Regions from separate parts of the Homo sapiens genome. Here all the other regions are linked to region 1. The links come from fine-mapping of genetic effects on gene expression. A gene starts in region 1. Each other region holds a variant in brackets. All regions are shown on one strand. Distances are between the middles of the regions. Region 1 holds the start of OAZ1 (ornithine decarboxylase antizyme 1). Region 2 overlaps DOT1L (DOT1 like histone lysine methyltransferase). Region 3 overlaps TMPRSS9 (transmembrane serine protease 9).

The links. PIP is the estimated chance that this variant, and not a neighbour inherited with it, causes the effect.
Region 2: its variant is fine-mapped to the expression of OAZ1 in whole blood (INTERVAL, PIP 0.96).
Region 3: its variant is fine-mapped to the expression of OAZ1 in whole blood (INTERVAL, PIP 0.99).

Annotation. Positions count from the first base shown.
Region 1 is chr19:2,265,152-2,275,398 of GRCh38, forward strand. It overlaps OAZ1 (ornithine decarboxylase antizyme 1), which reads left to right and starts at 4,335. Exons shown (of 5, transcript NM_004152.3): 1 at 4,335-4,593; 2 at 6,234-6,379; 3 at 6,631-6,803; 4 at 7,584-7,669; 5 at 7,821-8,337. The coding sequence starts at 4,448. The coding sequence ends at 7,957. LOC105372240 (a long non-coding RNA gene) reads right to left here and starts at 4,102. Exons shown (of 2, transcript XR_936242.3): 1 at 3,951-4,102; 2 at 3,342-3,721. It overlaps PEAK3 (PEAK family member 3), which reads right to left. Exons shown (of 4, transcript NM_198532.3): 4 at 9,480-10,247. RefSeq lists enhancers at 1,369-1,538, 4,034-4,648, 7,386-7,445, 7,456-7,515, 8,956-9,095 and 1 more and silencers at 3,902-4,391, 5,357-5,416, 5,627-5,826, 5,837-6,176, 7,716-7,865 and 1 more.
Region 2 is chr19:2,223,966-2,234,072 of GRCh38, forward strand. DOT1L (DOT1 like histone lysine methyltransferase) reads left to right here. Exons shown (of 28, transcript NM_032482.3): 26 at 1,423-1,487; 27 at 2,218-3,162; 28 at 5,820-8,613. The coding sequence ends at 5,827. PLEKHJ1 (pleckstrin homology domain containing J1) reads right to left here. Exons shown (of 6, transcript NM_018049.3): 5 at 10,033-10,096; 6 at 9,188-9,940. The coding sequence ends at 9,875. It overlaps MIR1227 (microRNA 1227), which reads right to left; the gene lies at 10,097-10,107. Among named protein-coding and RNA genes, the nearest start is that of MIR1227, 5.1 kb to the right of the region's middle. RefSeq lists a silencer at 17-76 and an enhancer at 1,898-2,404. The variant C/T (reference allele first, on the strand shown) is at 5,502.
Region 3 is chr19:2,363,997-2,374,243 of GRCh38, forward strand. All of the region lies in intron 1 of TMPRSS9 (transmembrane serine protease 9), which reads left to right. Among named protein-coding and RNA genes, the nearest start is that of TMPRSS9, 8.9 kb to the left of the region's middle. The variant C/T (reference allele first, on the strand shown) is at 4,949.

The DNA of each region.
Region 1 (10,247 bases):
CTCCTGGGCTCAAGTGATCCTCTTGGTTCAGCCTCCCAAGTAGCTGGGATCACAGATGCCCACCCAATCCCAGCTAATTAAAATTTTTTTAATTTTTTAAAATTTCTAGAAGTTTTTAAAATTCTCAACAAAGTGAGAACCTAGAGATAGGGTCTTGCTATGTTGGCCAGGCTGGTCTGCAACTCCTGGGCTCAAGCGATCTTCTTGCTTCAGCCTCCCAAAGTGCTGGGATTACAGGCGTGAGCCACTGTGCGCGGCCCCAATCCTTCTTTATTTTTACCTGTTTACATTTTATTTTATTTAACTCATTATTATAATTCTTTTAGAGACAAGGTCTCCCTCTGTCACCCAGGCTGCAGTGCAGTTGAGAGACCATAGTTCACTGCAGCCTTGACCTTCCTGGCTCAGGGGATCCTCCTGCCTCAGCCGCTGGAGTAGCTGGAACTACAGGTGTGCACCACCATGTCCCTAATTTTTAAATTTGCTGCAGAGATGGGGTCTGGCTATGTAGCCCTGGCTGGTCTTGAACTCCTGAGCTCAAGCGATCCTCTTGCCTCTGCCTCCCAAAGTGCACACCGGGCCCACATACCCTCTTTTAAATCAGAGTCAGCCGGGTGCGGTGGCTCACGCCTGTAATCCCAGCACTTTGGAAGGGTGAGATGGGTGGATCACCTGAGTTCAGGAGTTCGAGACCAGCCTGACCAATATGGTGAAATCCCGTCTCTACTAAAAATACCAAAATTAACTGGGCCTGGTGGCGTGAGCCTGTAATTCCCAACTACTTGGGAGGCCGAGGCAGGAGAATCACTTGAACCTGGGAAGGGGAGGTTGCAGTGAGCCGCCGAGATCATGACCCTGAACTCCAGCCTGGTGACAAAGTGAGACTCTGTCTCAAAAACCAAACAGCCAGGTGCGGTGGCACACCTGTAATCCCAGCACTTTGGGAGGCACGTAGATCATGAAGTCAGGAGTTTGAGACCGTCCTGGCCAATATGGTGAAACCCTGTCTCCACTAAACACAAAAATTAGCCGGGAATGGTGGTGCACGCCTGTAGTCCCAGCTTCTCGGGAGGCTGAGGCAGGAGAATCGCTTGAACCCTGTAGGTGGAGGTTGCAGTGAGCCAAGGTTACGCCACTGCACTCCAGCCTGGGCTACAGGTGAGACTCTGTCTCAAAAAAAAAAAAAAAAAATCAGTCCATCAATCAATCAATCAGAGTCATACTCTCTGCGTCCTCTGCCAGCAGCCGTATCCCCTCAACCTTGATTTCAGAAGAAAACCCAGGCATGGGCCCTCTATCCTTGACCACCCCACATCCTCTGCTGTCCCTTTCAGACAGTTCAAGCCTCACCACCTCCAGAGAAAGATATGCCTCTTTCTCTCCCTGCTGTCCGGGAGGCCCCTCACCAGTCACAGACTCCCCAGCTCCCAGCAAAGCACCTCCCACCCTGGGGAGTTTCTGGGGAACCCGGCCAGGTGGGCCAGCAGGGCGCAGTTGCTGATCCTAGCGCTCATCCCACGTGGCCTGGCCAGTGTGGGGGTGGCCCTTCTAGAAGCCTCACAGCATTGGCAGGCGGCCATCAGAGGCAGGCAGGAGGAGGAAGTGAGAGCTGCTGCAGTCAGGATGGAGGGATGGGGCTCCCTGGTCGTGGCTGTTCTGGAAATCGCACCGGTGACCTGTTCATTTCGAGCAGGCTCTTGCCTCTGTTCCCAGAGGAGGTCCTCAACTTAGGGGCGTCATTCTGCCCCCAAGGGACATTGGATGATGTTTGGGACATTTCTGGTTGTCATGACTTGGAGTGCTCCTGGCATGGAGTGGGTGGAGGCCAGGGACGCTGCTCAGTACCCTGCAGTGCCCAGGACGCTGCAGTCCAGCCTGGCAACAGAGCGAGACTCCGTCTCAAAAAACAAAAAAACAAAAAAAAAAGCAATCCACACCCTGAGTGGGGAAGGAGAGAGGAGAAGCATCCCAGGAGCTGGGGCCCTCCTGGTTCATACCATTTGCCCAGGATGCCCCACCCCAGAGAACAATCCAAGCCCAATGTCCACGGGTCCGAGGGAGGAGACCCTGAGTTAATTATTTGAAACAGAGTCTGTTCTCTGCTCACACCAGACACCAGAATAAACTCCTTTTTTTTGAGATGGAGTCTCGCTCTGTAGCCCAGGCTGGAGTGTAGTGGTGCAATCTTGGCTCACTGCAACCTCCACCTCCCGGGTGCCAGTTCAAGCAATTCTCCTGCCTCAGCCCCCTGAGTAGCTGGGATTACAGGCACGCGCCACCATGCCCAGCTAATTTTTGTATTTTTAGTAGAGACGGGGTTTCACCATGTTGGCCAGACTGGTCTTGCACTCCTGACCTCGTGATCCACCCGCCTCGGCCTCCCAAAGTGCTGGGATTACAGGCGTGAGCCACCGTGCCCAGCCTCAGGATAAACTCCTAATGGGGCAAACGGTATAAACCAGGAGGCCCCCAGCTCCTGGGATGCTTCTCCTCTCTCCTTCCCCACTCAGGGTGTGGATTGCTTTTTTTTTGTTTTTTTTGTGACAGAGTCTCGCTCTGTCACCAGGCTGGAGTGCAGCGGCGCCATCTCAGCTCACTGCAACCTCTGCCTCAAGGTGTGGATTTCAACGTGCGCAGTCTCCTGGGACCTCAGCAGGGCAGAGGATCATGGGATGCAGAGTCTCTTGGGGGGGTCCGTGGAATCCCCTAACTCGGGAGTCTCACCCAGGGTGATTCTGCCCCCGCCAAGGGACACTGGGTGATGTCTGCGGATACTTGTGGTTGTCACAACTGGGGGTGCTCAAGGCATGGAGTGGGTGGAGGCCAGGGACGCTGCTCAGCGCCCTGCAGTGCCCAGGGCGGCCCCAAATGTCAACCGCAGGAGTTAATTTCTGCCTCAACACCTGAATAGCGAATGCTCGTAGCAGAGATGCAACAACAGCCTTCTGGTGCAGTACGAAATCTCGAAAGACAGGCAGGCGCGGTGGCTCACGCCTGTTAATCCCCAAACTTTGGGAGGTCGAGGCAGGCGGATCACCTGAGGTCAGGAGTTCCAGACCAGCCTTGCCAACATGGTGAAACCCCATCTCTACTAAAAATACAAAAATTAGCCGGGCGTGGTGGCGGGCACCTGTAATCCCAGCTCCTCAGGAGGCTGAAGCAGGAGAATCGCTTGAACCTGGGAGGCGGAGGTTGCAGCGAGCCGAGATTGCGCCACTGCACTCCAGCCTGGGTGACAGCCAGGCCCGGTCGCAAACAAAACAAAATTAAAACCATGAAAGGAATCAGGATTTGCCAGGAGTAGCATTTTTGCTTGGTAAGAACAAAATTTTGTTTATACATGAAATAAAAAATATTTTATTAAACCTCACTGCAAAGTGGCAACTTTTTGCTAAATTCATAATTTAGTCTACACACAAGCTATGTACCCGTATGTGACTGCCAAGAGTTATATCTTTGCTTATTAAAAGCAAAGTGCAGTTCATACCTGAGATTTTTTTTCTGGATTTAACCAGGAGGGGAAATATTTTTGCTAGGTAAGTCCACATTTTACCTCACAGGCGAAACAGTTTACCGAACTTGACCACCAAAGAAATCGTTTTTTCCTTGGGAGATCCACATTTTAGTTCATACATGAGATGTGTTTCTGAATTTTAACTGCCAGGAGTAGTGTTTTTCCTTAGGGTAAGTTTCAGTTTCCACAGGAAAAATCTGAATTTATCTGCAAGGAGTAAAATTTTTGCTTAAGTCCAAATTGTACACGAAATATTTTACTAAATTTGAATATCTTTAACATTGGAAGTTCTTTTTTTTTAAACACTGGAAGCATTTTAAGAACTGCAAGACCAAATTTAAAAAAATAAAACCAGTAATATCATCGATGATTACCAGGTGTTACTGGAAATAATTCTGGCGCGGTTGGACAACCCCCCAAGCACCCGGGGGCCTACCCAGGGGAGGGGTCCCGCTGCGTGAAGGGACCCTAGGGAGGGCGACGTGGACCACGACAGACAAACGGGCACTCGAAGACCCCCGAAAATCGGCCCCAGCGAGCCGCCCCCGCCCCCAAGGCACGATTGTGGGGGCGGGGACGGCTCGGGGCGCGCGCAGCGCGTACCCGGCGCCACGGCAGCCCCGCCCCCAGAAGGACGCGCGCAGGAGGGGGCGTGGCCCGAGGCTCACCAACCAATCTCCAGAGAGCCTCTTCCTTTCCCTTTCCCTTTCACCAATCAGGCGCTGGGAGGGGCGGGCGCGACTTTTTTTCCCGGCGGCCCCGCGGCTCTGCCCCTCGTGCGGTCGCGTTCCCGGCGGCGCGGGGGGCGTGGCCTGGGCGCAGCATCTATAAAGGCGGGCGGCGGCAGAGGCGCCATTTTGCGAACGGCGAGCAGCGGCGGCGGCGCGGAGAGACGCAGCGGAGGTTTTCCTGGTTTCGGACCCCAGCGGCCGGATGGTGAAATCCTCCCTGCAGCGGATCCTCAATAGCCACTGCTTCGCCAGAGAGAAGGAAGGGGATAAACCCAGCGCCACCATCCACGCCAGCCGCACCATGCCGCTCCTAAGCCTGCACAGCCGCGGCGGCAGCAGCAGTGAGAGGTAAGTGCCCCGCCCCCGTCCGAAGCTTCCAGAAGCGCCGGCCGCGCAGGCCTGCGGGGGGCCGTCCTCGGGGCGCCAGATAGGTCCCCGGCGCGCGAGATCCGCCCCTTTGTCAAGGCCAGAATCGCGCCGGGGACGAGGTAGGCGCAGGGCGGGCCTGGAGGTCCCCCCCGGCCTTAGCAGTGCTCTCGGGGGAGTCGGGTTTGGGGGGCAAGGGTGCGGAGTTGGATTTGGGGGGCACCGTCCGGGGCGCCTGATTTGCGGGAGGGGCATGGGTCGGAGGTCGGATTTGGGCGCAGGACGGGGAGTCGGGGGAGGCGTGTGTCTTTTGCGGGGTTCGCGGGATGGGACTCGGCTTCGGAGGAGGGGAGAGGCTTCTGGTCGAGGGTTGGATTTGCGGGGCGCAGACTGGGAATTCGGTTTGGAGGAAGGGTGTGCGGTCGGGTCGGATTTGGGAGGCGCAGGATGGGGCAATCTGGTTGGGGGCGGGGTCGGCCTTGGGGGGCTGGTCCGCGGACAGGCAGGGCCCGCGGGGCTGGTGAATCTGCACTTTTCGGTCCCGGCCGTCGAGCGTGCGCTGCGGGAGCGGGGAGCGCTTTGCGGTGGACGAGCTCCCGCGGGTCCCTGTTGCCTCGATGTGGCCCCTGCACGCGACGGACCTCGTGGGCCCCGTTTTTCGCCCCTGAGCGAGTCGGTCTGGATGGCCCGGGACGCGCCGGGCGAGGCCGCGCACGTAGACGGCACCCAGGGCTTCTCCGCGGGGGCCGCCGGGGAGCTGGGGGTGGCGCACTCCGACAGCCCGGCAGCGCCCTGGGAAGACCCCCGCCGCTTCCCGGGAAGACGCGTCCCGCTTCCGGGGGCGCGGGTGCCAGCTGCGGTTGTGGGGGAGCCCGCGGGGTCTCGGTCGAGCTTTCCCGACTGCGTCCCCCGAGGTGGGCGTCGCTCAGCCCCGGATCGGGAGGTTGGGCCGCGGTGCTGGCGGTGCCGCGGTTTGGGGGCCGTGCAAAATGGAGGCAACTTTGGGGCCTGTTTACCCTGCGCAGCAAATGGCTGCTGGCGCTGCCGGCTGCGCGATTGTGAAAATCTCCCCCGGGGCGCGAGGCCGCGTCTGCCTGGATGACGCAACCGGGAGGGCCCGGGCCTGGAGCGGGGGCGGGGGGGCGGGCGGCCGGGAGCCGGAGCGGGGCGCGTCCTCCATGAGGTCAGGCTAGGCCCGCCCGGTCTTCGCGGGGACAAGCAAGAGTCCCAGATTTTGGCCGTAGTGCAGGGTGGAAAGGGGAAGCCGCGACAGAACTGAAAAGGGGAAGCGCTGGCTGTCTTGGTGGCCGGGGGGTGAGGCTCTGCCCCGGCGGGGCTGCGTGAGGGGAAGGGGCCCCCCGCCCTGGGAAGGTTGGGCTGTCCTGGGCGGCGCCGCCCGAGGAGTCGGGGCTCAGTGACTGCTGCCCTTGTAGGTGCTTGGGGCAGGCGTTGGAGCTGCCTTCGGGAAGCCTCGGGGGTGTGGGACCGGGTGGGCCCCTGCCTGGGCGGGGCGGGGTCTTTTGGCCGAGGCAGGGGTGGGGATGTGCTGAAGGCCGCCCGGACGCCCTGGAGGGGTCTCCGCCCGGAGCCTGGCGCTGCCTCGTGACCTGCATCATCTTCAGTTCCAGGGTCTCCCTCCACTGCTGTAGTAACCCGGGTCCGGGGCCTCGGTGGTGCTCCTGATGCCCCTCACCCACCCCTGAAGATCCCAGGTGGGCGAGGGAATAGTCAGAGGGATCACAATCTTTCAGCTAACTTATTCTACTCCGTGAGTATGGGGCCGGGCCTGCTGGGGCTGCTCTGGGGCCACAGGTACTTTCTTGTGCACCTTGCTGCCCGTACCTGTGATTGAATGTAATCGTGGGAACCCTGAGTTTCATCAGAGCCGGCGCACAGTCTCCTGCAGCCCAGGCGTTGCCTGAGCTCAACACGGCCTAGGCCCAAGCTTTAGCGCTGCCGGGTTCTTGGAGTCCTGTGGGGTGAGTCAGGGTTCTGAATTGGGCTGCACCCCCTGGACAGGATGATCGGCTGAATGTAACAGAGGAACTAACGTCCAACGACAAGACGAGGATTCTCAACGTCCAGTCCAGGCTCACAGACGCCAAACGCATTAACTGGCGAACAGTGCTGAGTGGCGGCAGCCTCTACATCGAGATCCCGGGCGGCGCGCTGCCCGAGGGGAGCAAGGACAGGTGAGGGGCAAGGACAGGCAGGGAGTGCTCACCCAGGGGAGCAGGGACCAGGTGAGGGGCAAGGACAGGCGGGGAGTGCTCACCCAGGGGAGCAGGGACCAGGTGCGGGTTGCTGCCCAAGGGGTGCAGGGACAGATGAGGGAGGGCACTGCCTTCAGGCAGCACATATGGGGGCCACCATCGCTTTGTTGGTGGGGACAGGGTCCCCCCTTTTTTTTTTTTTTGAGATGGAGTCTTGCTTTTGTTGCCCAGGCTGGAGTGCAGTGGCATGATCTTGGCTCACTGCAACCTCTGCCTTCCGGGTTCAAGCGATTCTCCTGCCTCAGCCTCCCGAGTAGCTGGGCTTACAGGCGCCCGCCACCGATGCCCAGCTAATTTTTGTGTTTTTAGTAGAGACGAGGTTTCGCTATGTTGGCCAGGCTGGTCTTGAACTCCTGACCTCGTGATCCGCCCACCTCGGCCTCCCAAAGTGCTGGGATTACAGGCGTGAGCTACCGCTCCCGGCCTGGGGTCCCTTTTTAAAAAGTGCACTCCAAATTCGTACCCTGGGATTCTACCCTCCAAGGGATGCCAGGCAGTGTCAGAGCTTTTCTGTCATGGGGCATGCACGTGGGTGGGTGCAGCGGTGCTGCTCAACACTGTGGTGTCAGGACGGCCCCACCCAGAGGACGATCTGGGCCCCAGGGGGACCCTGGAGTAGAGCGGGCCTCAGGGTAGCTGCTAAGGCCCAGGAGGTAGGCAGGTGGGTCGGGCCAGCCGAGACGCTGACACTCGCTGCAGCTTTGCAGTTCTCCTGGAGTTCGCTGAGGAGCAGCTGCGAGCCGACCATGTCTTCATTTGCTTCCACAAGAACCGCGAGGACAGAGGTAGGTGACCCGTATCGCCTGCAGTAGGGTGCGTGGGGGTGCCTGCGCCGCCCCTTCATTCTCAGCCCGCAGGCACGGTCTCCCTGCGGGGGTGGGGGGTGCGGGCGGGGGGTTCTGGTCGGCAGGGGTTCTGACGGCTTCTCCCCCGCAGCCGCCTTGCTCCGAACCTTCAGCTTTTTGGGCTTTGAGATTGTGAGACCGGGGCATCCCCTTGTCCCCAAGAGACCCGACGCTTGCTTCATGGCCTACACGTTCGAGAGAGAGTCTTCGGGAGAGGAGGAGGAGTAGGGCCGCCTCGGGGCTGGGCATCCGGCCCCTGGGGCCACCCCTTGTCAGCCGGGTGGGTAGGAACCGTAGACTCGCTCATCTCGCCTGGGTTTGTCCGCATGTTGTAATCGTGCAAATAAACGCTCACTCCGAATTAGCGGTGTATTTCTTGAAGTTTAATATTGTGTTTGTGATACTGAAGTATTTGCTTTAATTCTAAATAAAAATTTATATTTTACTTTTTTATTGCTGGTTTAAGATGATTCAGATTATCCTTGTACTTTGAGGAGAAGTTTCTTATTTGGAGTCTTTTGGAAACAGTCTTAGTCTTTTAACTTGGAAAGATGAGGTATTAATCCCCTCCATTGCTCTCCAAAAGCCAATAAAGTGATTACACCCGATGCACCTGGCTCTGTGGTGGTGACGCTGGGGACTGGTGGGAGGAGTGCCTGGGACCACAGAGGGCCCTGGGTGGAGGGGTCGCGGGGGATTTGGCACCCAGGCAGCTGCGGGACCCCTCCCACGGAGGAGACCCCCTGGGCTGGGAGGCCGGGCCCTCAGCTTGGCGCCAGCCTTGCCACTGCTCGCTTGAAGCCCCTTCCTGCCTCGCGTCCCCTTCCGCCCCAGCCTGGGCCTGCGCATGGGGATGTCTGTGCTCCCAACTCAACTTTTGAGTTCGCCGTGTTACTGGCCGCCCCTAGGGACCTGCAGCGCCGTTCGGGGCAGCAGCACTTCCGGCGGGGTCGTGGCCTGGAGCGCTTCCGGGTCTGCAACCCCGCCGTCTGCCCGGCCGCAGCGCCACCTGCCGGCCGCATCCGGGAGCGCCACCCGGAAAATCAGGGCCAGGCCTGGCCGGGAAACCGGCTGGAAAGAGGAGGAAAGGAGGAACTCGAAAAGATTGTAGACTTGGCGAGCGGGCCGGGGGGATATTCAGCCGTCTGAGCGGTGGTGGGGTCGGCCGGGAGGACAAACCTGGACACAGATACCCCCAGCTCATTTGGGCAGCGCAAATGCAGAGAAGGGGCATTAGAGCTGAGGCCATGCAGGATGAATAGGAGTATGAAGCAGAGTAGAGGGGGCTGTTTTCTGGTGTAAAAAACAACTTGGGCAAAGGCGTGGAGGCTGGAAAGTAACCTCCAGGGATGAACGACATGGGGTTGGAGACTCTGAGGAGACTTTGGAAGAGCCCTGTATGTATTCTGAGGCACTGGGGAGCCATGGGAGGTGTTTGAGCTGGAGAGGGACCTCATATCTGGGGTTGGAAAGATCCTCCCAGGACTGCCATGGGGAATGGAATGGAGGGGCAACTCTGAGTCTCCAGGAAGGAAGCCACAGGCAAGGGCAGTGCAGTGTGTCAGAGGCATAAAGGAAGACTCCATCCCCCTCCAGTGAGTCTCCTCTGTGCCTGTTTATTACATCATCCTGTGGTATTAAGTGAGCACCTACTGTGTGCCAAGCCTGGCCTTTGCCCCCAGGGAACTCACAGCCTTGTGGACAGTAACAGAGGAATAAATGCTCCTGAGAGTGGGCGGAGAACGCAGGGTAAGGAGCTAGCGATGGCCCAGAGTGGGCACCTTTATTTGTTTAGAGAAAGTGAAACTGTAGCCGGGCGCGGTGGCTCACGCCTGTAATCCCAGCACTTTGGGAGGCCGAGGCGGACGGATCACGAGGTCAGGAGATGGAGACCATCCTGGCTAACACGGAGAAACCCCGTCTCTACTAAAAATACAAAAAATTAGCCGGGCGTGGTGGCGGGCGCCTGTAGTCCCAGCTACTCGGGAGGCTGAGGCAGGAGAATGGCGTGAACCCGGGAGGCGGAGCTTGCAGTAAGCCGAGATCGTCTCAAAAAAAAAAAAAAAAAAAAAAGAAAAAGAAAGTGGAACTGGAACAGTATGGCAGAGGGAACAGCCTACACAAATGCTTGGGGGCGCGAAAGAAGTTGGTGTGTCACGGAGGAACAGGGAGGGAGGCAGGGTGGGCGCAGAGGGATTGAGGGGAGGTGGCAGGGAACCGCGGGGACTGTTTTAGGGAAGGTGAGTCCAGACCCCGCTGAGATGAGCTGGGTGTCTAAGGTCCCAGGGAGCCTTCCCTTCCCGTGACACCACCAAGCAATTCTCCACCAGGGACAGGGGCATTCACATGCCCAAAATCACTGGCCATCTTCAGCACAAGGGGGTGCTCCAGAGCCAGGAATGCCTCTGGTCCCGGCATTGGCCTCTCATGGAGACAATGACAGAACCCACGCGGAAGAGCGCCCTGGCTGCTGGGGAAGGCAGAACACAGAGAGACATTGATCAGCGGGGTTGTCCAC
Region 2 (10,107 bases), 41 kb before region 1:
CACTCCCCTTCTCCTCCCAAGAGCCCCTGGCACCCCCCGCCCCCATCCTACTTTCTGTCTCTGAATCTGAGGGCTCTAGGGACCTCCTAGGAGCGGAGTCACACAGGATGTGGCCTTTTGTGTCTGGCATCTCTCACTGAGCGTGACGTCCTCAAGGTGCATCCTCGGTCCCTGTCGTGGCTGGGTGGTGCTCCACCATCCATCCGCCCTCCGTGCTAGGCTTGCTTACCCTGGGCGGTTGTGAGCAGCACTGCTGTGGCCATGGGTGTGCGTGTTTGTGTTTGGGAGCAAGTTTCCCGTTTCCTGGTGCCTGGGCGGAGGTGCTGGGTGGCCCGGCCCCCTGGGCTCTCCAGCAGCCACACCATTCCACCCTGCCACCATGGGTGCACGAGGGTCTGAGGTCCTCAGTCCCCACATCCTCAACACACTGAATTTCTTGTTTTGATTCTAGCCATCCGAGTCGTCGTGAAGTGATATAACATGGTAGGGTTTTTTGCTTTTTTTTTTTTTTTTTTCCTGAGACACAGAGTTTTGGTCTGTGGCCCAGGCTGGAGTGCGGTGGCGCGATCTCGGCTCACTGACCCTCCGCCTCCTGGGTTCAAGTGATTCTCCTGCCTCAGCCTCCTGAGTAGTTGTGTCTACAGGCACACGCTACCACCGTGCCTCGTTCGTTTTTTTGTTTTATAGAGATCGGGTTTTGCCATGTTGCCCAGGCTGGTCTCAAACTCCTGGCCTCAAGCCTTCTGCCTCCCAGTGCCTCCCAGCGTGCGCCATCACAGCCGGCCCTAAGTGTGCTTTTGGTGGTGTTCTGTGTTAGTTCGTTCTGCTCCTTGCCCACGTGTGCGTGCACGTGTTACACGAGAAACATTGTAGCACCTGGATGCTCTGTTTTGCATTGGGATTGCTCAGCTTAGTGGTTTCCAGGATCTTTAGGAATTTGTGTGTCCCTGGTGTGTTCTTGGGACATTGGATCAAAGCGACCCCATGCAGTGTGTGGTTGGGCATGTCTTCACGTGCTGGCCTGCAATGCTGTGGCATTGTTTGCCACCTGAGGCACCGAGGTCTGAGAGGGGCCGGGAGAGGGAGGTAGGAAGAGAGCTCTGTCTGGGATTCTCACACTTCTGTGTGCTGGGAAATTGCTTCTCCCATTCAGCTGCTGTGCCTGATCTCTTGGCTGCTTGTCCCAGCAGAGGCCCTGGAGTCCCTGCCAGGACAGTACCCTTGTGGCACAACAGGGGTGGATCCCAGGGCCCAGCCACCCAGTCCAGGCCTGGCCCAGGGTGGCTGCACGGGTCCCCTGTCTGGGCCGAGTGCTTCTCGTTCACCACCTCCGGAGCTCCCTGGGCTGTTGGCTGTCAGCATTTGTGTCATTCTTAGTATGCAGCTGGGTTTCAAGCATTAATGACCTTTTTTTCTTAACAGAATTGAGAGAAAAATTGCAACAATCTCCTTAGAAAGCAAATCTCCCCCGAAAACCTTGGAAAATGGTGAGTAACAAGTGTTTTGCGGCGTGGCCAGGCCTGTCCGTGTGGCCGTGGTGCCCAGTCAGTGCTGCTGACCCACCTGCTGGCCCGCTGCATCGTGTCCCGCATGGTGCTGGCCCGCTGCGTCGTGTCCTGCGTGGTGCTGGCCTGCTGCGTCGTGTCCTGCGTGGGCGCCGACACTGGGGGCGCTGGGCTTCCAGAACTGCCTCTGGGAGGCCCTCACTGCAGCCCAGGGCCTCCGCGCACACGCCATGCTCTCACAGTGGGTGGCTGACCTGCGGGGATCGTCACCTTGGGTCCCCTGTTTGCTTTGCACCCTGGCCTTCCCCCCGAGTGGTGCCTGCGTCCTCAGTGAGGACCCTGACCTGCTCTGGGGCAGCCCCACCTTCCCTCCCGCAGGCTGCTGACCTCAGCATTTTCCCCAGAGCTCATCCCGCATGGCCTCTGAGACCCGCTTCAGCTGCCTCTGTCCTGTCTTCCGCCCTCCTGTCCCATCCAGTCCCGTCCCCTGCCATCTCATCCTGTGCTGTAGTCCTCCTGTCCCATCCCATCTTGTCCCCTCCCGTCCCCTTCCCTCCTGTCCTCTCCCATCCTGTCCCGCTTGGCATCTTGAGTGTCTGTGACCAGCCCTGCCTGCAGAGTTGCCCGGGCCGTGGCAGCAGCCCCGGTTAGCCTCATGGGTAGCCCGGGCAGGTGCTCTGGGCTCACGGCTTCTGCCTTTCCTCTTTGCCAGGTGGTGGCTTGGCGGGAAGGAAGCCCGCGCCCGCCGGCGAGCCAGTCAATAGCAGCAAGTGGAAGTCCACCTTCTCGCCCATCTCCGACATCGGCCTGGCCAAGTCGGCGGACAGCCCGCTGCAGGCCAGCTCCGCCCTCAGCCAGAACTCCCTGTTCACGTTCCGGCCCGCCCTGGAGGAGCCCTCTGCCGATGCCAAGCTGGCCGCTCACCCCAGGAAAGGCTTTCCCGGCTCCCTGTCGGGGGCTGACGGACTCAGCCCGGGCACCAACCCTGCCAACGGCTGCACCTTCGGCGGGGGCCTGGCCGCGGACCTGAGTTTACACAGCTTCAGTGATGGTGCTTCTCTTCCCCACAAGGGCCCCGAGGCGGCCGGCCTGAGCTCCCCGCTGAGCTTCCCCTCGCAGCGCGGCAAGGAGGGCTCGGACGCCAACCCTTTCCTGAGCAAGAGGCAGCTGGACGGCCTGGCTGGGCTGAAGGGCGAGGGCAGCCGCGGCAAGGAGGCAGGGGAGGGCGGCCTACCGCTGTGCGGGCCCACGGACAAGACCCCACTGCTGAGCGGCAAGGCCGCCAAGGCCCGGGACCGCGAGGTCGACCTCAAGAATGGCCACAACCTCTTCATCTCTGCGGCGGCCGTGCCTCCCGGAAGCCTCCTCAGCGGCCCCGGCCTGGCCCCGGCGGCGTCCTCCGCAGGCGGCGCGGCGTCCTCCGCCCAGACGCACCGGTCCTTCCTGGGCCCCTTCCCGCCGGGACCGCAGTTCGCGCTCGGCCCCATGTCCCTGCAGGCCAACCTCGGCTCCGTGGCCGGCTCCTCCGTGCTGCAGTCGCTGTTCAGCTCTGTGCCGGCCGCCGCAGGCCTGGTGCACGTGTCGTCCGCTGCCACCAGACTGACCAACTCGCACGCCATGGGCAGCTTTTCCGGGGTGGCAGGCGGCACAGTTGGAGGTAGGCAGGGCGGCCGTCCGTCCGCCCCCCGCCCCGGCCCCCGCCGGAGGCCCCTTCCTTTGCAGGTTCCCTTCCGCACTCTCTTGCAGCAGGAGCTGAGCTGCAGGTCCCCTGGTGCCGGCCGGCCCCCGCCATCCGTGCACGGTGGCGAACTCCAGTCCTGTGGGGAGAGGGCTCACGCTGAGTCCGTGTGTCTTGGGTTCTCTGGTTGTAACCGCGTCCCTCTTGTTTTCAGAAGGCCACCGTGCGCAGGGCCACCAGAGCATTACTTTCTCCCGTGGAGGTCACCTGCTAGGTGTGGCCGCCCGGGCTCTGGCAAGGCTCTGGGAGCTGGTGTTGGGTAAGAGCGAGTCCCCGCAGTGCCTGCCCAGACAGGGCGGAGAGGAGCCGCCGGGGGGAGCGGCCTGGCCCTGGGGCTGCTGCGGGGCGGGGGGCCGGAGGGCGGAGGGCGGGCCACCACGAGCCTGGCCGAGCCGCTGCTTGTGCTTGGTGCCCGCACACGCCTGGCGGCGCCGTTTCGCTTCCCTTTTTGTGAGCCTGCGGCTGCTGCTCTGCGCTTGCCTGGATGCTGCCGCTTGTTGAAGCTGCGTTTTTCTCTCCTATTTGCAGGTGTCTTTAACCACGCGGTGCCCTCCGCCTCTGCTCATCCGTTTGGAGCCCGTGTCGGCCGCGGGGCTGCATGTGGCAGCGCCACACTGGGCCCGAGCCCGCTGCAGGCGGCGGCCAGCGCCTCGGCCTCTTCCTTTCAGGCCCCGGCCTCGGTTGAGACCCGGCCGCCCCCTCCGCCTCCGCCTCCGCCTCCCCCGCTGCCCCCGCCTGCGCACCTGGGCCGGTCCCCCGCGGGGCCGCCCGTCCTCCACGCCCCCCCTCCACCTAACGCCGCCTTGCCTCCTCCCCCAACGCTGCTGGCCTCTAACCCTGAGCCCGCGCTTCTGCAGAGCCTCGCGTCCCTCCCGCCTAACCAAGCTTTCTTGCCCCCCACCTCTGCTGCCTCTCTGCCGCCTGCTAACGCCTCTTTGTCTATCAAGCTCACCTCCCTCCCGCACAAGGGCGCCCGCCCCTCCTTCACGGTGCACCACCAGCCCCTGCCCCGGCTGGCCCTGGCCCAGGCCGCGCCCGGGATCCCACAGGCCAGCGCCACGGGGCCGTCCGCGGTGTGGGTGTCCCTCGGCATGCCGCCTCCCTATGCCGCGCACCTTTCGGGGGTTAAGCCGCGATAAAGACCTTGCTTAGCTAGCAGTGCGTATTGTGTAAGGTAAGGCCAGAGCCCTGCGCGGTGGCTCACTCCAGACACTGAACTGTCCTTCCTTTGGCAGAGAAGACGGCCACAGGGCTCGGCAGAAGTTCCGGGGGTCCTGAGGAGGGAAGAGGGAGAGAGCCAGGGAGACCAGGGAGATGGTCGCGAGAGGAGGGACTACAGGACGGGCACCAGCCATGGAGTGGCCTGAGTGTGTTGGGTTCCAGCTGCCCGCAGCTGGGTTCCTGCGGTGACGCCGCAGGACTGAGGCCAGCCCTGGGGGCAGCTGTGCCAGCCCCTGTGGGCGAGGCTCACGGGGTGCCAGGCCAGGGGGCTGGGAGCTCTAGCTCCTAGAGCAGTCTCCAGGGCTCCATCCGCACCAGGCCCAGGTCACTCATGACGGGTGGCGTGGCTTGGTGCTGTTCCCCAGGCGCCCAGCATGTAGCAGGCACGGTGCCGGCTGCAGAGGTCCTGGAGAGCCAGGGTGGCTGGCTGGATGCCTCTGGTCGGGGCTGTCTGGCCAGTAGCCTCGGATGCCCTCATAGGGAGCCAGTGAAGCCCCAAGTGCCCTGCCTGCCTGGGGGCTGATGGGTTCCCGGCGGGGTCGAGAGGCAAGCTCTGTGCCCTGCGTGTTGAGGCCCCCTTGCTGGACACGGCTGATGGCCACACTGCCCTGTGGTCATGGCCCACAGCCGAGGGGCTTTCAGCTGCTCAGATGTCAGCACCAAGCTGGGCAGGTTAGTGTAGACGGTGCCCACCTTTGAGACCAGAAGGAAGTTGGAAGCAGGAGTGATTTTGATGATGTGAGGCCTTCAGGGAATGTCCTGTTCACTCCTCCCCCAAGAGGCTGTGGAGACTGTGGCCGCTGACCCCTGAGGGCAGTTGGCCACCCGTGCCCTCCAGGGACATGGCGTGCCTGGCGGCGTAGTGCAAAGGTGCCCTCTGCTTGCCCCTGGCCTTCTGCCTCAGGGGCCCCTGGGACACAGGCCTTCCTGGGCGAGTCCAAAGCCCACCGGGCAAGGAGAGGAGGACTGGGAGCCAGGAGCCAAGGCGGAGGCTGTGGCCAGGGCTGGTCAGCCTGGCGGGTCAATGCGGGCACCTG[C/T]GGGCTGGACAAGCTATGCTGGGTCTCTTAGGAGATGAGCTGCAGGTAGGGTGGCTTTAGCTGGACTCGGCTGTGTGTCTCCTTTGGAGGAAGGCTGGAGCTTGGCCGGCGTGTCCAGGTGTCAGGCTCCCTGGTCTGTCACGGGGCACGCCCGTCGTCTGTTGTGGTTAGAGGAGCTGGCACTATGCCTGTCATGGTGCTGGCCCCAGGTGGCGTGTGTGCTCGTGGGAGGCCTCGGTCCCCAGCCTGGGTGAGTGTTGGGCTCCCCCAGGCGCGATGGTAACCTCAGGCCGCTCTTCCCGCTGTGCCCTTCTGCAGGTAACTAGGATTTCTACCTCAACCGCGAGACCTATGCAAGGACGGTGTGGACCAACTCGCGCCCGCGGCATGGTGCCCGCCGGCCTGCCGGGCTCCCACCCCTGGACGGCAGAGGCAAGGACGGACGGGAGCTCCACTGTGAATCGGCGGCACGCGCCGCAGGAGGCTGGGACTGGTCCAGTTTGTACTGTCGATAGTTTTAGATAAAGTATTTATCATTTTTTAAAAAGTATAAACAATTCTGACTTATTTTATTCCATCTAAGTGGTAAAAGGCAACTTATTGAGAAATATAAATATCTATATATGAGAGCTCTATATAAAGACACGTGTCTGCAGGGCGGGCCCGCCAGCGGATTCGCCACAGCCTGCCCCGGTGCTATCTCGTCCCCAGGCCCGCGCCTGCCTCCACCCGCTTGGTGCTGACTAGACGCTGACAACGCCGAACCCCGTTCTCGGAAACGCCGCCCGGCCGGCTCCCCCGACGCGCTGCTCCCGTACCAAAGGCAGGCCCGTCGCCACCACATTCCTCGGAGGCCTCCCCGCGGCCTGAGCCCCTTCCTGAGCGCCCTGGCGCCTGCCCTGAGCTCTTCACCTTTACCCCGGCACTGTGAACCCCCAGACTGTTCACCCTCCGGGGCGTGGGTTGCGCCCTTGCATGTGAAGGGGCCTGCGCGGTGACGCAGCTGGCCATGTGCTGCGCGATGGTGCTGTGAGGACGGCGCGGGCACGTTGAACAAGTGCATTTACTTTTGTATTTCTCGGCTGTCCATGGCTCGCAGCATGCCCTGCGATGCGGGGCAGGCCTGTCGTGGGTCCCTTGGTGTTTCTGTACAGGAGAGAGTCACACTAATGAGTGGCAGTATTTTATAGAGATGTGATGAGAATTTATAAATTTCATAGATTTGACAGCTTTTATTTTTAGATGGTATAATGCACAGTGAAGAGGAAAGAAAAGCGAGGGGAAAAAACCTTATTTATTCAAACAGTGCACAAAATGGCCCCAGCGTCAGCCCCGACCCTAGACCCCTCAGTTGCAGCTCCCAGCAGCCCAGACAGAGCTGCCGGCGCCCCTGCCTGCCCCACATCCCTTCCTGTCAGGGCCACGCCTGGCACCCATCCCTTGGAGCCTGTGCTGGTTCTCCCAGCTGCTGTGGGTGTGCTGGGGCCAGGGTGCACTGCTGAAACCTGGCCTCTCTGGCCCTAGGCCCCAGGGTGACGTCGGCCCCCCACTCTGCAGCCTTGGCGGGTGCCTGGGACTGGGTGTGGAAGGAGAGGAGCTGAGGCCGGGGTGTAGCAGGCAGGCAGGGCCACTCCAGTGCTTCTGGAGCCCTGAGCAGTCAGGGCCTGGGTTGTCTGAGCAGTGGTGGCTCTGTGCCCTCCCTGGAGGATGGGATCTGGGAGTCTGAGCTCCCCGCATCTGGCCCTGGGCTGTGTGGCACTTGCTGAGCCCACCTTCTCAAGTGCTTGCTCCTGTGAGATGGCATCGGGGAGCCCCTTCCCCAAGGTGCCACAGATCCACCCTCCAGGGAGCTGCCAGCCCTGTGTTCTGGTTCCCAAGGGCAGGATGGACACACGTCACATCCCTACCACGTGGCCTCCAAAGGGAGCCACGGAGGAAAGGCTTCTGTGGTTGCTAGGTGGGGGAGTCCTGTGTGGGAGGGCCTGAAGACCCCTGCTTGTGCCTGGTGAGGGGGGTGCTGCCTCCCCCAGCCCCCAACAACCTCTCAGACCCCCACCCTCCAACATAGCTGAGTTCTGAAGATGGTGCTCCGGACCTGTCCTCTTAAGTGGTGCCCAGTGCCCTCCCCACCCCACGTTGGTGCTCTCAGCTAGAAGGTGCTGTGCCTCTGCCTGAGCCCCAAGCCCCGAGCCTGGCCTTCAGGACAGGCAGCCTGCTCTGTGTCGCCACGGGCCGGATACGCCACAGGGTTGATGGCAGAGACGGCCGAGTCCCTGGTCTAGAACAAGACACATTCTTTAAACACTGTATTACTTCTGCCTCCCTCTAGGTGACAGTGGCAGTCCGGGTGCCATCACGGGTCCTGCAGATGGCCATGCAGGGCTCCTGCCCACGCAGGCCACCGTATGTTCAGGACACGCACTGGGTCTCAGAGCCACTGGCCCAGGCAGAAGTCTCCTTGAGCCCACTGGGTCATATGCGTGTCACCACACGTGAACTAGTGTGGTGGCTGCCTGCGGACACCCTCCTGTTCTGAGCCCTGGGCCTGTGTTCTTCTCAGACACTCCCAGACTGAGGGGTGGTGTGTGGCGGGTGGCAGGGTGGCTGTGGAGACTGGGGATCTGGAGCCTGGTGCTGGCACCTGGCCTGAGTTTCCGTGGGCAGCTGGCGGGGACCTGTGCTGCTGCTGCTGACTGTGGGTGGGCGGGCGGCGCCTGGGAGTGGCTCTTGCTCAGGAATTGATAGGAACCCTAAAAACTAGGATACCCCCTCCTCGGCCCATGAGGCACGCACAGTGACTTATTTAAGACTTCCCCCTTAATTTATCTGCCCCCAGGATGCGTCAGTCTGTTCAGTGGTCAGCAGGCCCCCCACCCCCCGCCGACTGCCCTCGCCATCGTGGTCAGACCCCCCTCCCAACACAACACGCTGCTGGTCTGTGTCAGCCTTTGTAACGTGGGAGGCTCTGCCGTGTCTTCCGGGTGAACTGTATTTGGATTGCGCGCATTGTCACGGTCCGCCCCTGGGCTGCAGGCGCCCCTTCCTCTGGGCACCCCTGCATTCTGCATCCCCACCTCTAGACGCTGTAATAAACAGACTGTTTTCACTCGGACCTGGTGTGAATGGCAGCCTTTCTTCCAGGTGGCATGAGGCGTCTCCTGGCGGCCAGTGAGAGGCCCCGGCTAGTGTGTCATCGCCGAAACGGGGAGTGGAGGGCCTAGGGGTGCTCCTAGCAGAAGCTCCGGGGGCTGACACCAGGACACCCTGGCCTTGGGGAGGCTTATGAGGGCACCAGGCCACAGGCAAGGGGAGGCTTATGAGGGCACCAGGCCACAGGCAAAGTGCCTTTTGATGAACGGAAAACCAGATCTGCGACCCCAATGACATCGGCAAAGTCCTTTTCACATCAGATGGACCAAAGCCCGCCCAGGCCCCAGCCACACTCCGGGAGGGCCCGTGAATGCCAGAGGCAGGACCCCAGGTCACCACAGGATTCCTGATACCACACAGCAGCTCTGTTCTCCCCAGGCCTGGGTCCCAGCCTCCACCTGTCCTGGCTGGGGGTTCTAGCTCTCCCCTCAGTGCAGGAGGCCCAGCCACTGCCTCTCAGGACCCTGAGCCTTACTTCCCTTGGGTGGGGGCTCCCTGGCTGCCCCTCCCCTCTCCTTCACTTCACCGCCATCCAGTGTGGAAAAGAGGTACCTTTATTTGAACAGAACAAGCACCCTGGCCCCAGGGCAACCACTTCCCCAGGTGCACAGCCAGGGCCCTCCTGTCTGCAGGAGAATTCACAGCTGGTGTGGGACTCAGCCCCTAGGCCATTCACAGCTTTGTCTGGCTCTGTACATTCATTCAGCACGGGGCAGGGGGGCCATGCCACCAGCCTGGGGGCTCACCAGGCCCCTGGATGCACACAACTCAGGCAGGGCACCTGTGGGAAGGCGCATATCCTGGCGGCAGCAGCACGTGGCACCAGGTGCCAGGCCAGTTAGGTGGATCCTGGGGCCCCAGGGAGCGCAGCTTGCTGGGCAGTTTCATAAAATGCAGCCCCTGCCCACACCCACCTGGCTTCAGGCTTTGGATGTCTCCAAACCAAAAACCTCCCACTGAAAATCCAGGTGTGATGGCCGGGTGTGGCGGCTCATGCCTGTGATCCCCGCTACTTGGGAAGCTGAGGCAGGAGGATCACTTGAGTCCAGAAGGTCAAGGTCACAGTGAGCTGTGGCACCACTGCACTCTAGCCTGGGCAACACAGTGAAACCCTGACCCAAAAACCAAAAACCAAAACAAAACAGATCCAGGCATGGCCAAGCGATTCATGGCTGGGCAGGGCCAGTCCCGTCCCGCTGCACGCTGACCACCGTGCCCTGCGCTCACGCCTGCAAGCCACTCAGCTGGAACCTGGCCTCCTCGGATATGCCGAACTGTTCCAGGGGGTCCTGTGGGGAGGACGGGTGGCCATGAGCCAGGGCTGGAGGACTGCCTCTGCCACCTGCAGCCCCACCCCGGCCCTCTGCAGCCCTGCACACACCTTGCCCGTCACCTTCCGGATTTCGTTCCTGTAGAAGATGAGGCTTCTCCGCATGAACTCGTAGCTGGGGAAAAG
Region 3 (10,247 bases), 99 kb after region 1:
AACAGGACGCTGTTGGTATAAGCACATCTCAGCCTCCCGGTAGTCCTGTAGACCCAGCACCTGTAGTCCCAGCTACTCAGGAGGCTGAGATGGGAGGATCGCTTGAGCCCGGGAGTTGGAGGCTGCAGTGAACTGTGATCACACCACTGCACTCCAGCCTGGGTGACGGAGTGAGACCCTGTCTCAAATAAATAAGTGAATGAATGAATGAATGAATGAATGAAAGACGCATAAATAGAAGAAATTTAGAAGCCCAAGAATGAAGCTGAGGCGAACCTTGGGGTTTTATTGAAGTTGATGGTTGACGCAGCCCTGCAGGCTGTTCTAAGCCATTGATGTTTCTGTGTGTTGCTCTGAAATGGATGCAGAGGATAACATATTCTGGGTGATCCACTCATAACTGCATAAGGCTTCCTTTGTTGTTGTTGTTTTGCAGAGATGGGATCTCACTATGTTGATCAGGCTGGTCTTGAATTCCTGGGCTCAAGGAATCCTCCCACCTTGGCCTCCCAAAGTGCTGAGATTACAGGCGGGAGCCACGGCACCCAGCCCTTTGTTGTTTTGTTTACACTTTACCTTTATGAAAAAAAAAATTGGGGGGGATAATTTTAGTTGTGAAGATGGTGCAGAGAGTCCCCGCACACCCACCTTCCACCCAGTGTCCCCTTGCGTTGACACCTTTGACCACAGAACAAAGAGCAAAACTGGGCCGGGAACGGTGGCTCACGCCTGTAATCCCAGCACTTTGGGAGGCTGAGGCGGGCCGATCATGAGGTCAGGAGATCGAGACCATCCTGGCTAACACGCTGAAACCCCATCTCTACTAAAAATACAAAAAAAATTAGCCGGGCCTGGTGGCGGGCGCCTGTAATCTCGGGAGGCTGAAGCAGGAGAATGGCGTGAACCCGGGAGGCAGAGCTTGCAGTGAGCCAGGATCGCGCCACTGCACTCCAGCCTGGGCGACGGAGCGAGACTCCATCTCAAAAAAAAAAAAAAGAGCAAAACTGACGCACGACTGTGGGTGCCACACTCTGTCTTCCCACCAATATTTCTGTTCTACGTTGCAATCCAGGATCCCACATTGCATTTAGGAGCTGTATTAATTTTAAATGATACAACTCATAAGTGATTGGAAGGTTATTTTTTAATCTCTGCGTTTTCCTCTGGGTCCCTTAGTATCACTCATGTTTATCGGCGTCTTCCCTCCCACACGATTACTGACTCCTTTCTCCTCTGTCCACATTATAAAGCTAAAAGAACACAAGATACCATTGCTGCAAATAGTTTTCTCACAAACACCTCTTCCCATGAAAGCCTAACAAAAAGACCATAGACAAAATGAAAAAAAAAAGGAGACCAAGCTTATTAAATTTCCTGTAGGCTTGCTGAGTGATTTATTTCATGATGTTGGGGCGATGGAGGAGGGGAGGATTTCCTGACTAGATTCAGGCCTGAGGACAGGGGACAGGAAGAAATAAGAGAGGCCATGGCGTAGACAACAGCTGTCTGTTCTATAAACGGGCTTTGGCTGCCGTGGGACCAAAGATGCGGAATCGAATGGGATGGACGTGTCCGAAAACTGTGATCATCTTGGATTAGGTGAAGGAAAAAACAAACAAACAAACAAAAAAAACAAAAAAACTACACAGACAGGTGGGCAAGACAGCTAAAGAGCCCAGACCGAGGCTGGGGGCATGATGGTGCAGGCTTGTAGTCCCAGCTATTTGGGAGGCTGAGGCAGGAGGATCACTTGAGCACAGGAAGTTGAGACCAGCTGGGCAACATAGCAAGACCCCATCTGTACAAAAACTAAAAAAATGAGCCAGGCATGGTGGTGTGCACCCATAGCCCCAACTATTTAGGAAGCTGAGGTGGGAGGATTGCTTCAACCCAGGAGTTGGAGGCTGCAGTGAGCTGTGATAACACCACTGCACTCCAGCCTGGGTGATAGAGTGAGATTCTGTCTCAAAATAAATAAATAAATAATTTTAAAAAAGAGATGGAGAAAGAGAAGAGAAGAAATTTAGAAGCTCAAGAATGAAGCTGAGGTGAACCTTTGGGTTTTATTGAAACTGCTTGGAAAAAAAGGGAACCCCCTGAATTTCTCCTTGGAGAGGTTGAACCATGGTTTTGAGCAACTAGAAAACATTGGCCATTAAAAGCAGAGAGTGAGACCCTGTCTCTACCAAAAATTTAAAAAATTAGCCGGGTGTGGTGGTGCACACCTGTAGTCCTAGCTACTCAGGCGGCCGAGGTGGGAGGATTGCTTGAGTCCAGGAGGTTGAGGCTTCAGTGAGCTGTGATAGCATCAGTGCACTCCAGCCTGGGTGACAGAGTGAAACCCTATCTCAAAAACCAAAAAAGTAAATAAGGAACACCAGACAGAAGAGCCCTGGGACCTGCCGTCCTGTGTATTAGTTTTTGGTTACTGCATAACAAATGTCTCTCAAATTTAGCCAATTAAAACAACAGACATTTATTCTGTCACAGTTTCTGTGGGCCAAGGATTTGGGAGTGATTTATCTGGGTGGTTCTGGCCCATGGTCTCTCATGAGGTTGCAGTTAAGACATGGGCCAGGGGCTGGGTGCGGTGGCTCACGCCTGTAATCCCAGCACTTTGGGAGGCTGAGGAGGGCAGATCACAAGGTCAGGAGATCAAGACCATCCTGGCTAACACGATGAAACCCCACCTCTACTAAAAATACAAAAAATTAGCCGGGCGTGGTGGCGGGCACCTGTAGTCCCAGCTACTCAGGAGGCGGAGGCAGGAGAATGGCGTGAACCCAGGAGGTGGAGCTTGCAGTGAGCCAAGATTGCGCCACTGCACTCCAGCCTGGGCGACAGAGCGAGACTCCATTTCAAAAAAAAAAAAAAAAAAAAGACATGGGCCAGGGCTGCCTCATCTGAAAGCTCGTCTGGGCCTGGAAGAGCCACTTCAAAGCTGGTGTCCTCATGTGGCTGTTGGTGGGAGGCCTCAGTTCCTCACCACATGGGAATCACCATAGTGCTGCTCGAGCATCCTGACAACATGGCTGCTTGCTTCCCCCAGGGCTGGTGATTCAAGGGAGAGAAAGAACAAAGCCATAGTGCTTCTATGATCTAACCTCAGAAGCCTAGATCCATTGCTTCTGGTATATTCTATTCATTACAAGTGAGTCAATAAGTCCAACACACACTCGGAGAGGGAAATTAGGCTCTGCTAGGTGAGGATAGCAAATAATTTTTGGAGATATTTAAAAACCACCACATCTATAACCTTGGGCAAGTTACCTAACTCTTCGGTGCCTCCAATTCATCTTTGGTCAGAATAGAACCAGTCTCATAGGAGAAATGTGGCAATAAATGAGATGATGACTGTAAATATTGTTTAATACAACACCTGTCACATAGAAAATGCTTATGTACTTTTTTTTTTCAAGATGGAGTCTTGCTCCATTGCCCAGGCTGGAGTGCAGTGGTGGAAACTTGGCTCCCTGCAACCTCTGCCTCCTGGGTTCAAGTGATTCTCCTGCCTCAGCCTCCCAAGTAGCTGGGATTACAGGTGTGCACCACCATGACTGGCTAATTTTTTTTTTTTTTTTTTTTGAGAGGGAGTCTTGCTCCGTCGCCCAGGCTAGAATTCAGTGGCACGATCTCAGCTCACTGCAAGTTCTGCCTCCCGGGTTGACACCATTCTCCTGCCTCAGCCTCCCAAGTAGCTGGGACTACAGTCACCTGCCACCATGCCTGGCTAATTTTTTGTATTTTTAGTAGAGATGGGGTTTCACTGTGTTAGCCAGGCTGGTCTTGAACTCTTGACCTCAGGTGATCCACCCACCTTGGCCTCCCAAAGTGCTGGGATTACAGGCATGAGCCACTGCACCCAGCCCATGACTGGCTAATTTTTGTATTTTTAGTAGAGACAGGGTTTTACCATGTTGGCCAGGCTGGTCTCGAACTCTGGATCTCAAGTGATCCACCTGCCTCAGCTTCCCAAAATGTTGGGATTATAGGCATGAGCCACCATGCCTGGCTTTATCCACTTACTTTTATTAAAGGTATATTTTTCAGTGTTACAGCTCTTGAGGAATGATGTGCCAGCTATAGTTATCAAATTGTAACTCTCTGGATTTGTGGGGCCGGAGAGGCAGAGGGAAATAACTTGCTCTTTCAGGAGGCATTAGGCTACGGAACGGAGAGACTGCACATGGCGGCTGCGTTTTTCCTGGCTCCCCTTTTCCAATGGTTAAGGGAAGACAAATGGGAATTAAGCAGTTCCAGGCTCTGCATGTGGCAGAAACCATCCTACCATCTACTCCCATGGGTGCAGTTTGCAAAATTTGAGAGACCAAAAAAAAAAAAAAAGCAGAGAATGTGAAGGGCACATTAGGGTATAGCTGAGGATGTCAGGCAGGAGACACAGCCTGTGCCTTTGAAGGCACTGAGGCTGGACCATGCTGTGCATGTTTGGGGATCGGCGAGGAGGCCAGTGAAGCTGGGGCTGAAGGAGGGAGGGGTTGGAGATGAGGACAGTTAGACCCGGTCGCTGTGGGGAGGTTTGGGCAGAGGTGGGATGTCACCTGACGCGGGTCTTAGCTGTCTCCCTGAGGCTTCCCGTTGAGAATAGACCCAGGGAGGGGAAGATGGAAGTGGCATTTTGTGAGCCTGGGCGATGCCCTGCTTAGACCAGGCTAGACATGGCGTAGGGGCCCAATTCTAGAGCTACCCTGCAGACGGTCTGACAACGTTTTTGGATGGACTGGGTTTGGGATGTGCCAGGGCATCAAGGATAAACCCAGTTTTTTTTTTTTTTTTTTTTTTTTTTTAAAGACAGAGTCTCACTCTGTCGCCCAGGCTGGAGCACAGTGGCGCAATCTCAGCTCACTGCAACCTCCGCCTCCTGGGCTCAAGCAATTCTCCTGCCTCAGCCTCCTGAGTAGCTGGGATTACAGGTGTACGCCACCATGCC[C/T]GGCTAATTCTTTTTTTTTTTTTTGAGACAGAGTTTTGCTCTCATTGTCCAGGCTGTAGTGCAAAGGTGTGATCTCGGCTCACTGTAACCTCCACCTCCCGGGTTCAAGTGATTCTCCTGCCTCAGCCTCCAGAGTAACTGGGATTACAGGCGCCCACCACCACACCCAGCTAATTTTGTATTTTTAGTACAGATGGGGTTTCACCATGTTGGCCATGCTGGTCTCAAACTCCTGACTTCAGGTGATCCACCCATCTCCCAAAGTGATGGGATTACAGGCGTGAGCCACTGTGCCCGGCCAAACCCAGGTTTTAAAAAAAATTTTTTTGTACCTGGGTGAGTACGAAAGTGGAGCTGCTGTCTGAGCTGAGAAGACTGTGGGAGGAGCAGGCATTTTTGTGAAGAGGAGACTGAGGAGGGATATGAGAGCTCAGTTTGGTCAGTGTCAAATTTAAGAAGCCTGTTAATGATTGTATTAGCTTTTGTTTGTTTAAGACAGGGTCTTGCTCTGTCACCCTCACCCAGGCTGCAGTGTAGTGGCTTGATCGCAGCTCACTGCAGCCTCAACCTCCTGGGCTCAAGTGATCTTCCTGCCTCAGCCTCCCAAGTAGCTGGGACTACAGGTGTGTGCTACCACCCTGGCTAATTTGTAATTTTTTTTTTTTTTTTTTTTTTTTAGAGATGGGATCTCATTATGTTGCCTACACTGATCTCAAAGTCCTGGGCTCAAGCGATCCTCCTGCCACAGCCTCCAAAAGTGCTGGGATTACAGACCTGAGCCACTGCACCTGGCCTAGTTTTCTGCAAATTACCACAAATGTAGCAACTTGAAACACCTCCTGTTTACTGTCTCATGGTTTTGTGGTTTCTGTGGGTTGGGTGGCTGGGCATGGTTTGGCTGGATCCTCTGCTCAGGGTCTGACAAGACTGCAGTCAGAGTGTTGGCTGGGCTGTGGTCTCATCAGAAACTCAACTGGGGATGCCCAAATGCAGTGGCTCATGCCTGTAATCCCAGCACTTTGGGAGGCCAAGGCTGGCAGGTCACTTGAGGTCAGGAGTTCAAGACCAGCCTGGGCAATATAGCGAAACCCCTTCTCTACTGAAAATACAAAAATTAGCCGGGCATGATGGCGGGCACCAGTGTAATCCCAGCTACTTGGGAGGCTGAGGCAGGAAATCACGTGAACCCAGGAGGCAGAGATTGCATTGAGCTGATATTGTGCCACTGCACTCTAGCCTGGGTGACAAGAGACTTCATTTCAAAAAAATATATACACATCCTGGCTAACACGGTGAAACCCTGTCTCTACTAAAAATAACAAAAAAATTAGCCAGGCACAGTGGCGGGAGCCTGTAGTCCCAGATACTCAGGAGGCTGAGGCAGGAGAATGGTGTGAACCTGGGAGGTGGAGCTTGCAGTGAGCCAAGATCACGCCACTGCACTCCAGCCTGGGTGATAGAGTGAGACTCTGTCTCAAAAAAAAAAAAAAAAAAAAAGTGGGTAGGTTGGCCAGATGTCCCAGGTTGCAGGCTACACCATGCCTGGCTCATTATTTTTATTTTTTGTGGAGATGGGGGTCTCGCTATGTTCCTCAGGCTGGTCTCAACCCCTGGCCTCAAGTGATCCTCCCTCCTTGGCCTCCCAAGGTGCTGGGATTACAGGCGTGAGCCACCACGCCCAGCCAGAAACTTGGGTTTAAAATGGACTTTGCATTATAATGAGATGGGTAATTCACCCAGGATGAATCCAGCCTTCAGCTTTTGCTTTCTTTTGCTTTTGCTTTCTCTCTCTGTCTCTCTTTATATATATATTGCCCAGACTGGACAACATTGCAAGACCTCGTCTCTACAAAAACTTAAAAAAAAAATTAACCCAGCGTGGTGGCATGCATTTGTAGTCCCATCTACTCGGGAGGCTGAGGCAGGAGGATCCCTTGAGCCCAAGAGTTCAAGGCTGCAGTGAGCCGAGATCATAACACTGTACTTCAGCCTGGGTGACAGAGCCAGACCCTATCTCAAAAAGAAAAAAATGCATGACAATATTATGTATCTTGATGACCGAGGTTTTTGGAACTCACTTTAATTTTTCTCCCAGGGCCAATACCTACCTCCTGTCACCCTACTCCCTGGCCCCGGATGTCCTCTGCGAAGGCTCTGAGCCCACAGCTCACTCCTGTTTGAAAACAGACACTGGCAGGTCTCAGAGTGGCATTAAGGACACGCTGGCCCTAAACCAAGACTCTCCCCAGCTGGCCTCATCTGGAGGCTGGAAACAGACATTGCTATTGCCTCGTTCACAGTCGCTCACTCGTTCACAGTCACTCGTGGCTCTGCTAACAAAGTCCTTGCCTAGTCCCTCCTTGGGGGCCCCCACACGGCTCCAGATGGTTCCTGACAGATGAAGACGGAAGTCGGTAGGTTGGCCAGATGTCCCAGGTTCCAGGTTAAAACTGGAATAGCTGCCGGGCGCAGCGGCTCACGCCTGTAATCCCAGCACTTTGGGAGGCTGAGGCAGGCGGATTGCCTGAGTTCAGGTGTTTGTGACTACCCTGGGTGACACAGCAAAACCCTGTCTCTACTAAAATACAAAAGAAAAAAAAAATTTAGCTGGATGTGGTGACGGGCACCTATAATCTCCGCTACCTGGGAGGCTGAGGCAGGAGAATCGGTTGAACCCAGGAGGTGGAGGTTGCAGCGAGCCAACATCGTGCCACTGCACTCCAGCCTGGCGACAGAGCAAGACTCCGTCTCAAAAACAACAAAACCAAGAAAAAAAAAAAACAAAACTAGAATAGCCTTGAGCAAACCAGGGCCAGGACAACTGGTCACCCCAAAGCAAACTGACTCACTGGGTGACAGGGACTCTCACCCCATCACCACCGCGTTGGGATGAGTCGGACTTCCTGCCTCCCGCCTGGGCCAGAGGATGCCGAGAGAGTGGCGTCTGTTGGGCTGGAGGCTGGTCGAGCCACAGGCTCAATTTGGAGACATCAATGCTGATGGTTCATGATTTTGGTGCGATCTCGGCTCACTGCAACCTCCGTCTCCCGGGTTCAAGCTGGGATTATAGGCGCCCGCCACCATGCCCGGCTAAATTTTATATTTTTAGTAGATGGGGGCCAGGCTGGTCTCAAACTCTTGACCTCAAGTGATCCGCCTGCCTTGACCTCCCAAAGTCTGGGATTACAGGCGTGAGCCACTGTGCCTGGCCCCTTCTTTTTTCTTCCCTGTATCTTGGTGCGCAGTTCAGATCTGAGATCCCACGTCCATTCTTCTCGAAGCTTTTTCCTGTCACGCAGGCGGGCGAGTCTCCTCCTACTGATCTCTTTGGTTTTACAGCTACACACTTTTCTTTTTGGTTTGCCTGGGGGCATTCTCACATATCTCTCAAACCCGGCCAGTAACACCCTCCTACGTTGCTTTAAAAAAAAAATAAATGATGCCTCTTCTTGTCAAGGGCTTCCTCCCACCTCAAGGTCACCTGTCAACCTCCATGCCCACTCTTGTTTCTCGAAATGGGCTATCTTCCCTCCTTCTACCTGTGTATTTCATTCTCTCCCACCCCCAGTCTTTGGAAAAAAAGATAATAAAACTCTAGAAGATATTTTTACTCTGAGATTAGCAGTGTGAAGGACCTTCCAGAACCTTCTCTCTCTGCCTTTCTCTGAATTAAAACGCTCGCTTGTCTGAGACCGGCTGTCTCCATTGCATCTGAGTGATAAGAGAAAGATTCATTGAAACAGGCAGGTTTTATTTTTGGTCTGTCCAGCACTAAATGATTTTCTTTTGGCTGACTTATTTTTTTTTAACTCTAAACAGACTTTGCAGCTTAGTAAGAATTTATTTCAATTTAGAAATATGGGTGTTCTAAACTTTTTTTAAATTAAAAAAATTTATTTTTTCCTGAGACAAAGTCTTGCTCTATCACCCATGCTGGAGTGCAGTGGCACAATCATAGTTCACTTCAGCCTTGACCTCGTGGGGACAAGTGATCTTCCTGCCTCAGCCTCCAAAGTAGCTGGAACCACAGGCGTGCACCACCACCCCTGGCTAATTATTTTTATTTTTTGTGGAGATGGGGGTCTCGCCATGTTGCTCAGGCTGGTCTCAACCCCTGGCCTCAAGTGATCCTCCCTCCTTGGCCTCCCAAGGTGCTGGGATTACAGGCATGAGCCACTGCGCCCAGCCAGAAACTTGGGTTTAAAATGGACTTTGCATTATAATGAGATGGGTAATTCACCCAGGATGAATCCAGCCTTCAGCTTTTGCTTTCTTTTTTTATTTTTATATATTTATTGATTTTTGAGACACAGTCTCACTCTGTCGCCCAGGCCGGAGTGCAATGGAGCAATCTGGGCTCACTTCAACCTCTGCCTCCCGGGTTCAAGTGATTCTCATGCCTCAGCCTCCCAAGTAGCTGGGATTACAGGCACGCCACCACACTTGGCTAATTTTTTGTATTTTTAGTAGAGATAGGGTTTTGTGATGTTGGCCAGGCTGGTCTCAAACGCCTGGCCTCAAGGGATCCTCCCACTTTGGCCTCCCAAAGTGCTGGGATTACAGGCGTGTACCACCATGCCCAGCTAATTTTTGCATTTTTAGTAGAGACGGGGTTTCGCCGTGTTGGCCAGGGTGGTCTCGAACTCCTGACCTCAGGTGATCCACCCACCTCGGCCTCCCAAAGTGCTGGGATTACAGGCATGCACCACCATGCCCAGCTAATATTCGTATTTTTAGTAGAGACGGGGTTTCGCCATGTTGGCCAGGCTGGTCTCGAACTCCTGGCCTCAAGCGATCCACCCGCCTCAGCCTCTTAAGGCGCTGGGATTACAGGCATGAGCCACAGTGCCCGGCCAACTTTTGCTTTCTTTGCCGTACACGTGGCCTAGGGAGGTTGCAGCTTGGAGGTTTTCAGCCAACTTTTTGCGAAACTAATACACACCATGCTGATTTATTCTTTAGGAAACTTGTCAGCTTTTCACTGAAGCAACAAATGCTTTTGTCTGTACCAACTATTTGCAAAGTGCTTTACAGGGAGATCTGAGCAAGGCAGAGAGGTAAAGAAGGCTCGTGTCTATCCTTGAGGAGTTGAGAGGAGTCTAGAAGTTTCTGTACATTGGGCAAATCTGGGCAGTGCTTTATAACATTTTCCCGAGCTACAGAGCTCTGACCCCTCCGCGGCTTCACTGCTTTTCAAGCTATTACATCAGCACCAAAGATTCCTTTTTCTTGTATTCACGGTGACAAGGAGAGGCTCAAAGTCCTGCCTGTCCATTAATTTCATGCTGATTTCTCTCAA